Linked DNA regions of Homo sapiens. The protein of the gene in region 2 purifies or fractionates together with the protein of the main gene of each other region. This does not show direct contact. Each region holds a gene or a part of one and is shown on either strand. Other genes may lie near its edges.

Region 1 (3,500 bases), on a different chromosome or scaffold from region 2:
CTATGGACTGCATGCCTCTCCCTACGACTGAATTGAGCATCCTGTGAAAGGTTTGCAGTGGGGGAGGGACACAGACTGATTTGTGCTTTGGGAAGGACACTCTGGCTGTGTGTGTATAGAAGCAATGAAGGGGAAGGGGGTGCAGGGTGAGGAGTCAGAGACTAGGCGGAGGCTGCTGAGGTGACTGCTGTTGGGATGGGAAGAGCAGCTCAGATGCCTTTCTTTTCTTTTCTTTTTTTTTTGGGAGTCTCACCCTGTCCCCCAGGCTGGAGTGCAGTGGCATGATCTCGGCTCACTGCAACCTCCGCCTCCCGGGTTCAAGTGATTCTCCTGCCTCAGCCTCCTGAGTAGCTGGGACTACAGGCGCGTGCCACCACGCCCGGCTAATTTTTTGTATTTTTAGTAGAGATGGGGTTTCACCGTGTTAGCCAGGATGGTCTCGATCTCCTGACCTTGTGATCCGCCCGCCTCGGTCTCCCAAAGTGCTGGGATTACAGGCGTGAGCCACTGCACCCTGCTAGATGCTGTATTTTCTTATGGGGAGGGTCTGTTAGCAGGGGCCATCCTGACACTGCCTTGTGGCCAGGAAGGAGACAAACGAAGGCTGGCGTTTCTTTTTCTTTCTGCGTCTGCCTTACGTTGTGATCTTTGTTTAAAACTTATTCAGAATGGAAATGCTAAATTCCAGAGTAACAAAGAGTTTGTTGAACTCGTTAGAGTTACACATGATAGGATTTAACATTGTATTGAGATGTGTCAATAACATTCATTTACTTAGAAACGTCACATCTTCTGGATTTCCAGAGGAGTTTTATTCTTGATAAGTTTGCTTTCTTGATGAGGGAAAGTTTAATCCAGCTGCAGTTTTTCTTTAAAAAAAAAATCATCTATCTTAAGAAATATAACATTTAAAGGTTAGATGTATTTAAAAATGATAAAAGGAATACTTTGGTACAGTTTCTTTGGTTTCTGAGTTGATTAGGGACTCAGAAGCCTTTGCATTATTTAGTGGTATATCCTTGCCAATATTTAAAGAGCTGTTAGTGAGCACCCCAGGCCCTGCTCTCTGGAAGCTTTCCTAAAGCTTGCCCTGAAATAGCGAGGATGAACGTCTTGTTTGCTAAAGCCAAATGGTTGGCTAATAAGACTCAGCATAGCTGTCTTTATAAAATAATAAGAGGTTTGATGTTAAGAAGTGGAAGATAATTGATTTTTTTAAAAAGCTGAAACATAAACTTCCTTATGCTAATGTTACAACTGGAAAATCTAAAAAGAAAAATCCAACTGTAACATTGCCTACGTGAAAGACATGGTAGAAGTCCTTACGTACCGATCACCTTTAAACAAATTGCTTGGCAGTACATTTTTGAAATTAAGACCACTCCAGCTCACATAACTGGCAATGATTATTGCTGACTTAAAATTATAGAGCCTACAGTTGCCTTCTTAGCATTTTTAGTAGTGAGAGAATTGAATAGTGCTTAGTCAGAGTGCTTTCTGGGTGGGAGTTGTATAGTAATAAAGATACATTTTCATGTATTTTCTAGACATTACAAGAAGCGGTGCCAAGGCCGCATGCGGAAGCACGTGGGGGACCTGTGCCTGCAGGCAGGGATGCTGCAGGACTCCCTGGTGCATTACCACATGTCGGTGGAGCTGCTGCGTTCTGTGAATGACTTTCTGTGGCTTGGAGGTAAGATGAGCTGATGAAGATGATCTGATATGTAATTGTTTCAACTGTTAATTAAAATGAGAGGCTGGGTGCGGTGGCTCACGCCTGTAATCCCAGCACTTTGGGAGGCTACGGCAGGCCAAATATGAGGTCAAGAGATTGAGACCATCCTGGCCAACATGGTGAAACCACGTCTCTACTAAAAATACAAAAATTAGCTGGGCGTGGTGGCACGCGCCTATAGTCCCAGCTACTCGGGAGGCGGAGGCAGCAGAATTTCTTGAACCAGGAGGCAGAAGTTGCAGTGAGCAGAGGTTGCACAACTGCACTCCAGCCTGGCAACAGAGCGAGACTCCATCTCAAAAAAAAATAAAATAAAATAAAAAAAGAAATGAGAGGAAACGGCAGAAGAAATTCCCCAAAAAGAAGGGATGAGGGAGGAAAAGCAGCCAGCCTGTGCTGGTTGCCACGAGCAGTGGCCTGGGATGCTTCCCTGCTGTATCTGCTGCCCTCCTCCCACCCTGCCATGCGTCCTCTGAAGGAGGCCCTGCCCACACTTTCCCTTTTCCTCTGTTCTTAGTATACCTTGCCCTCTGCTTTGGATGCCGTTCCCCATGATCTTCACCTCTTAGACTCCTCCCTCAAAACCTCCTCCATGTGTCACATGATGAATGGATAAACGAAATGTGGTATGGGCATACAGCGGAATATTATTCAGCCATGAAAAGGAGTGAAATTGTGATACCACTGCAGCACGGATGAACCTTGACAACTTTGTGCTAAGTGAGAGAAGGCAGGCATGAAAAAGGCCGCAGATTGTATGATTCTATATATATGAAGTGGCTAGAATAGGCAAATCTATAGAAGCAGAAAGTAGACAACTGGTTCTAGGGGCTGGGAGGAGGGGGAATGGGAAGTGACAGTTAACGGGCATAAGGTTTCTTTCTGGGGTGATGAAAATGTTCCAGAGTCAGTTAGTGGTGATGGTTGCACAGTTGTGAATATACTAAAAACTGCTGACTTGCACACTTTAAGTGGGTGAATTATATGGTATGTGAACTCTATGTCAATCTTAAAAATTAAAAGAAAGGGAAGAAGAAATCCTACTTCAAAGCACAGCCATCTCTGATCCCCCGCAGCAGTCGGCAGAGCGGGTGCCCTGCCTGAGATGTTGCTGACACTTCGTGGTGGAATCGGATGTCTGTGTGTGGTCTTCCCTTTGGGGACTGCGCCTCCTGGAGGTGGTCCTGGGAGGATGGACTGGCTGAGTCCATTGTGTGGGTAAGGACTAAAACAGGGTTCTTTCGTTGAGGTTGACAGTTTAGCAAGGACACCTGTCAGCCACTTATGATAATACAAGTCGGAATGAAGTAATGAGGTGAGTTCTGTAACAGAAGTTTAACGAGGTGCCGTAGAACATATTAAATATAACAAATTCTTTCGTTCTTGGGGACGGAGTCTCGCTCTGTTGCCCAGGCTGGAGTGCAGTGGCATGATCTTGGCTCACTGCAATCTCCGCCTCCTGGGTTCAAGCGATTCTCCTGCCTCAGCCTTCCGAGTAGCTGGGACTTACAGGCATGCACTACCACACCCGGCTAAATTTTCTATTTTTAGTAGAGACGGGGTTTTGCGATGTTGGCCGAGCTGCTCTTGAACTCGACCTCAGCTGATATGCCTGCCTTGGCCTCCCAGAGTGCTGGGATTACAGGCATAAGCCACTGTGCCCAGCCAAATATAAGAAATACTTCAAACGGCCAGGCATGGTGGCTCATGCCTGTAATCCCAACACTTCTACAAAAAATAAAAAATAAAAAAATCTTACTTCACC
Region 2 (5,376 bases):
ACCTCTGTTGAGGGATTGGGCACTGAAAGGCCAGTTCCTGGCTTTGTTAAAGTCCACATTCCTAGGCAGAAGACTGGTGTCCTGCTGAGACCCCCAAGGCAGATGGGGGTGGTGGCTCGCCTCTCATTCAGCTAAGGAGAGAGGAGTTTCTCCTCTTCTCCAGGGGAACCAGCCCGGCTCAGTGCCTCTGTGCAGAGTCGGGGGACCTGAGGGAGCAAGGCTCAGTCGTTCCTTTTCTCCCCTGAAGCCTCTGTGTCCCAAGGAGCTCTGGCACTTTGTTCACCAGTGCTATGGGAACGAATTGGGCCTGACCAGTGATGACGAGGACTACGTGCCCCCTGACGACGACTTCAACACAATGGGGTGAGTGAGGCCAAGGGCGGCTGCCCAGAGGCAGCCGTGCGAGTGCCTGCAGGAAGAACCTGCCAGGCAGAGGGAACAGCACACATGCCTGTGCAGCCATGGAATGAACTGTGGAATGAAGGAGGGAAAGTGGTCACAGGTGAGGTCAGGGAGCTCGAGGGGGCAGAGCCTAAGGGCCTGGCCATCTTTATGGTTGGCTTTTACTGAGAGTGGGATGGGAAAGTTTGGCAAAGATAATTGCTAAGGTCTGATTTAACATTTCAGCAGGATCACTCTGGTCTTTGCACTGAAAATACATTAAAGGGGAACCAGGGCAGAGGCAGGGAAACCCGTGAAGAGGCTGGTGAGTAATTTAGATAGTTAGATGAGGGATGGTGGTTGTTTGGAGAAGTGGCAATAAGTGTTTAGTTCCTGAATAGATTTTGAAGGATATGTTGATGGAACAGAAAGGAACCAAAGGTGGCTTTCAGATTTTTTCGGTTTTACTGCCCAGAAGGATGGCATTGTTCCAAACGGAGATGGACAGTACTGTAGGCAAAGCAGGTTTCAGGGGAAAGATCAGGAGGGTAGTTTTAGGCAAGTTGAAATTGAGATGCCTGTTAGCTAAATGGAGATGCCAAGTGGGCATTTAGATATGGAGTGTGGAGTGCACAGGGAAGCCTGGGCTGAGGCCATAAACGCAGCAATTATTAGTGGATAGTCATGAGACTAGCTGAAATTTCAAGTGACTCGGTGAACCTAAAAAGGAGTTCAAGGACTGCCTGGGAGCACTCAGTGAGGGAAAGAAGCAGCTGAAGAGAGCTTGAAAGCACATGCAGTGAGGGAGGAAGGCCCTAGGAAGGTTTCCTATCCTGGCAGCCACGGGAAGGAAGTGAAGCAGAAGGTATTGTCACTGTATCACATGCTGTCGATAGGTTAAGCAAGATGGGAAGATGTGCCTGTAGACTGGCACAAAGCATGCTTGAGGGTGGAAGGGTAGCTAGCTGCAAGCTTGGTGGTCGTGCAAGAGGCATACAGGGAAAAAAGCAAGAAAAGAACATTGAATGTCTGTTGTGCTTAGGTCTGGGCTCAGTCGAAATAATAGTGTTGTCGCTTAACCTCTATGAATACCCATTTGGTTATCTCCAAAATGCACATAAGGATTTCCGGAGAGTTGTCAAGCATCTGGATTTGTTAAGTACAGGTCAGATGATGGTGATGATGATAGGCTGATGATTGCTCCCTTAGAGGAGGCTACAGCGGCATCCCTGAAGTGTTCCTCGACGAGCACCCACCTTCATCTCAAGGAGGTTTTCTTTCTAGGTGTATAATGCAGGGAAGTTTTCTAGTTATCATCAAGAATTTGGGCAATGCCACTTAAGGAGCGCTCATGTCCAGAGTCCTGTCTTCGTCACCGTTTGGGAAAGGAAATGCATGCTCAGAACCCAGATATTTGATTCAGAGGCTTCAAATAGGATGGGCACCCATGGAAAAAAAATAGCTTAAGACAAATAATCCTTTCAGTTAGGTAGGGATAACTCTAAGGAGGCTGCCTAGGAAAGGTGAGTTTGCAGCCAGGAATTTTACATGGGGGGCAGGGAGGGGTGGGGTGGGATATGAAGGAGATTTCAGAAGAGCAATGGGGTAGGCAGGGGATTTTTGGTTAGAGGAAGATCATACACAAAGCAAAGAAGCAGGAAATCTCATAGATATGGATGGATAGAAAGGTCTGAGATTCTTAGAATAGTTGGCCATCTTGAACCACTGAGGGTAATGTGGACTCACTGGTGTCTCCTCTCAGATACTGTGAAGAGATCCCTGTGGAAGAGAATGAAGTGAATGACAGCTCATCCAAGAGCAGCATAGAGACCAAGCCAGATGCCAGTCCACAGCTGCCCAAGAAATCCATCACCAACAGCACACTAACATCCACAGGGAGCAGTGAGGCCCCCGTCTCGGTATGGGCAGTCAGCCTTTGACTTCTACCCCCAGTCCTGTGGCCAGCGTTTCCTAGCATAGTTCACTGGGAACCCAATCTGGGGAGCAGGTAGAGAGGAGATTGGTTACATTGTTGTCAGTTTCTTCAAGGAGGCATTCTGGAGCAGATGGGCTCTCCGTATTCTAGTGGCATAGCCCGGGGTCCAGAGCTGGGGCTAGGTGCCTGGGGTACAAGACTGGGTTTGACTTCTGAGCAGATGAAAACCATTTCAAGCCCACTGTGCTGGGCTGCTGCTGATCAGCCCTTCTGGTAGAGAACAATTCCAGGTATTTTTTCACTGCCTTGATCTGACGTCAAAGTCATGCATGAATATAGAACTATAGAACAATTAATTGTTTATCCACTCATTTGGTTGATATTTGTTGAGTATACGTATTGTGGCTTATTTCTCCACTGTGGTAGACTTTATGGAAGCCATAAAAATGTGTAAGAGAACCTCTGTCCTGTGGGACTCTGTTAATAGAGGAGGTAGAACCTTGATGAGGAAAGAGGGTCAGGGCATGTGCTGGCAGGCAGAAGAACAGGTAGGGTTCTTCAGGAAAGGACTCCCTCAAAGAGCCTTGTATTTCAGTAGGCTATGGATCAGACCACCTGCCTTCAGAATGAAAACATTATTCATTGGATACCTGGTCTTTATTTTCCATCTCTGAGGTTATCTTTAAAATGTAAAGAGTTGTATCGATTCCCTTCCAGGGCTAATGAGAGAATGAGTTTTAAAAAATGCTTATGAAGCCTTTCGAGCTTCTTAGGATAAACAGGTACTACCTGGAGGCAGGCTGACCTTGTTGCAGGATGGTGCAGGTGCGGCTCCAGGAAAGGGCCTGGGCCTGTGGGGACCAGCTCTGTGCATTTGGGGAGCTTGTTGTGCTGTTGGAATGGCGAGCGTGAGAAGTGCAGTAGTCCTTGTACTGTGTTTGCCCATCCTCTGTGGCAGCTCTGGGGAAGGGCTTTGGAGCCTGACTCTGACTTCGCTCCTGAGCAGCTGAGCTGGGAGTATGAGAGCTGCCAAGGCTGCATCCCTAATCTCCCTTTGGAGAATAGATCCAGACCAGGTTTCCCTGGTGGGTGACTCCTCTGTCTTGGCTCCAGTTTGATGGGCTGCCCCTGGAGGAAGAGGCGCTGGAGGGAGACGGGTCCCTGGAAAAGGAGCTCGCCATTGACAACATCATGGGGGAGAAGATTGAGATGATCGCTCCTGTGAACTCCCCTTCACTGGACTTCAATGACAATGAGGACATCCCCACTGAGCTCAGTGACTCTTCCGACACACACGATGAAGGTGGGCATTTGAAAATGGGTCTGGAGTGGCCCTTGCTCTGTTTTGAAGGCTAAAAGGAGATCTCTATGTGGGGACTGTAGTTAGTCTCTAGGTTCCTGGTGGAGAGATGGGAGCAGAGCTTCCTTAACAAAAGGTACCTGTTATTAGTTTACATCCCTGTTTTCAGTCATTTGCTGTAGGAGCCTCCCATAGATAATGCTTTGTTCTGTCATTTAGTCTTGTCACTAAATGTTCCCCCTATTGACATTGGCTTGCCTTGCGACCCTGACCCTCACAGACACGCAAGTCTAGGCAATGTTTATAAGCCACAAGGAAGGTGCCAGTCAGCTGCTCCCTGGAAATAATTAGATTTTAACAGAAACGTCCTCAAGATAGCTGCGAAACTTGTTAATGCAATTTTTGCTGCATGGGGTATTTAGGCCCAGCTAGAAGAAAAGGTGTTGCTGGGTCAAATAGGGTTTGGAGACTCCCTTGTTTCTCTAATTTTTGTAAGCAGGTAGCTTCTAACTTCATGCCTGCATAGGATTAGCTTCTAGAACCTCCCTTGGGAACATGCTGCTGCTTACCTTCCATGGAGAGAAGCCAAATTCTCAGCATTCATGAAATCAATTGATGGATTTCCTCCATTGAGTGAGTGGTCTGTTATGACTGGTGAGCATATGAGCACGGTGCTCACTTGTGGATCTGTGGACACCTCTCCCAGGGGCCACCTGCAGTGGTTTTCTAACTTTTGGTTGGTTTACCCACCCCCATCTAGAGTCCAGGGTTGGCACAAGTGACTGCATGGGTTAGATACTGCCTAACTCCAGGGTGCCTTTCACATAAACTAAGGTGTGAATACCCGCTGCGCTGCACTTGTGCAGTACCCATCTGTGCAGTCATAGGACTTGACCCCTACAGGGTACTTCAGAGTTCTCTGGTTTCCTCAGGGTCCTAGGGGTGCCAGAAATGGCAGCCTCCTCCTGAGATCACATACCCACCCATGCAGGTGCAGTAATTAGGGACTGAGGGGTGCCAAGGGTTCGGGGGGGAGCACTGAGGCTTTAGCAGCTCTCCTGTATCCTCATTTGCATCCTCCTGTAGCAGCTGGAAAATTCAGATTACAGGTGAAATTCCCTGGCTGGCAATCTTCTGTATATGGACACAGTGATGTGCCAGAAGGGCTTTGCATCCCTGAGACTGAAGGAAGCTCCATTTTTGGAGCCCTCCCACACCTTGCTCTGTGTGCCTCTCATTCTGATTTGAATTCTTATTTTGCTATATGATGAAGCTGTAATCCTAAGTTTAAAAAGGGGAGTAGGTATTGACATCATGGTAGAAATAGGCTGTCTTATGGAACTGTAGTTAGGGATCACAGCCTATTGGACCAGCCCCAGCCTTAGCAGCAGTTCTGTACACTGATTCTTCCAGATTAGTCTACGTTCCCTCGAACAGACCTATGCCATGGGTTACAACTACAATTTGTTGTCGATTAGAGTTAACTTACAGACTCTCAAAACCCCATTCTTTGGGTTTAGGCAACTTCCAGAAGTAGTCATTTATTTGAATTTTAGTCTAAGATCAACTGAATTAGGGAGGTTTGAAAGTGTAAAAGCAAATCGTACATTCCCAAACACTTTGTAAAGAAGGAATGGGTAGTGTCAGCTAAAGGAAATGGTGTGCATCCCAGCAAAAGAAAGAGACCGAAAGCAAAGTCATAAACCATGCCCACGAGCTCAGCTGTCCTGCTCCGTGTCCTCTCCATACCCTTGTTGAC

Evidence for each region. Proteins that work in one complex are often made in the same cells at the same time.
Region 1: the proteins of GRAMD1B (region 2) and TRAPPC9 purify together in Homo sapiens (affinity purification with mass spectrometry; 2 studies listed by BioGRID and IntAct, with this or other methods). This does not show direct contact.

What each region holds. Positions count from the first base shown.
Region 1 is NC_000008.11:140,437,245-140,440,744, reverse strand, and holds part of TRAPPC9 (trafficking protein particle complex subunit 9), read left to right. Parts: intron 1-1,547; coding exon 1,548-1,693; intron 1,694-3,500. UniProt on the Homo sapiens protein: Functions as an activator of NF-kappa-B through increased phosphorylation of the IKK complex. May function in neuronal cells differentiation. May play a role in vesicular transport from endoplasmic reticulum to Golgi.
Region 2 is NC_000011.10:123,603,179-123,608,554, forward strand, and holds part of GRAMD1B (protein Aster-B), read left to right. Parts: intron 1-247; coding exon 248-363; intron 364-2,143; coding exon 2,144-2,300; intron 2,301-3,430; coding exon 3,431-3,620; intron 3,621-5,376. UniProt on the Homo sapiens protein: Cholesterol transporter that mediates non-vesicular transport of cholesterol from the plasma membrane (PM) to the endoplasmic reticulum (ER).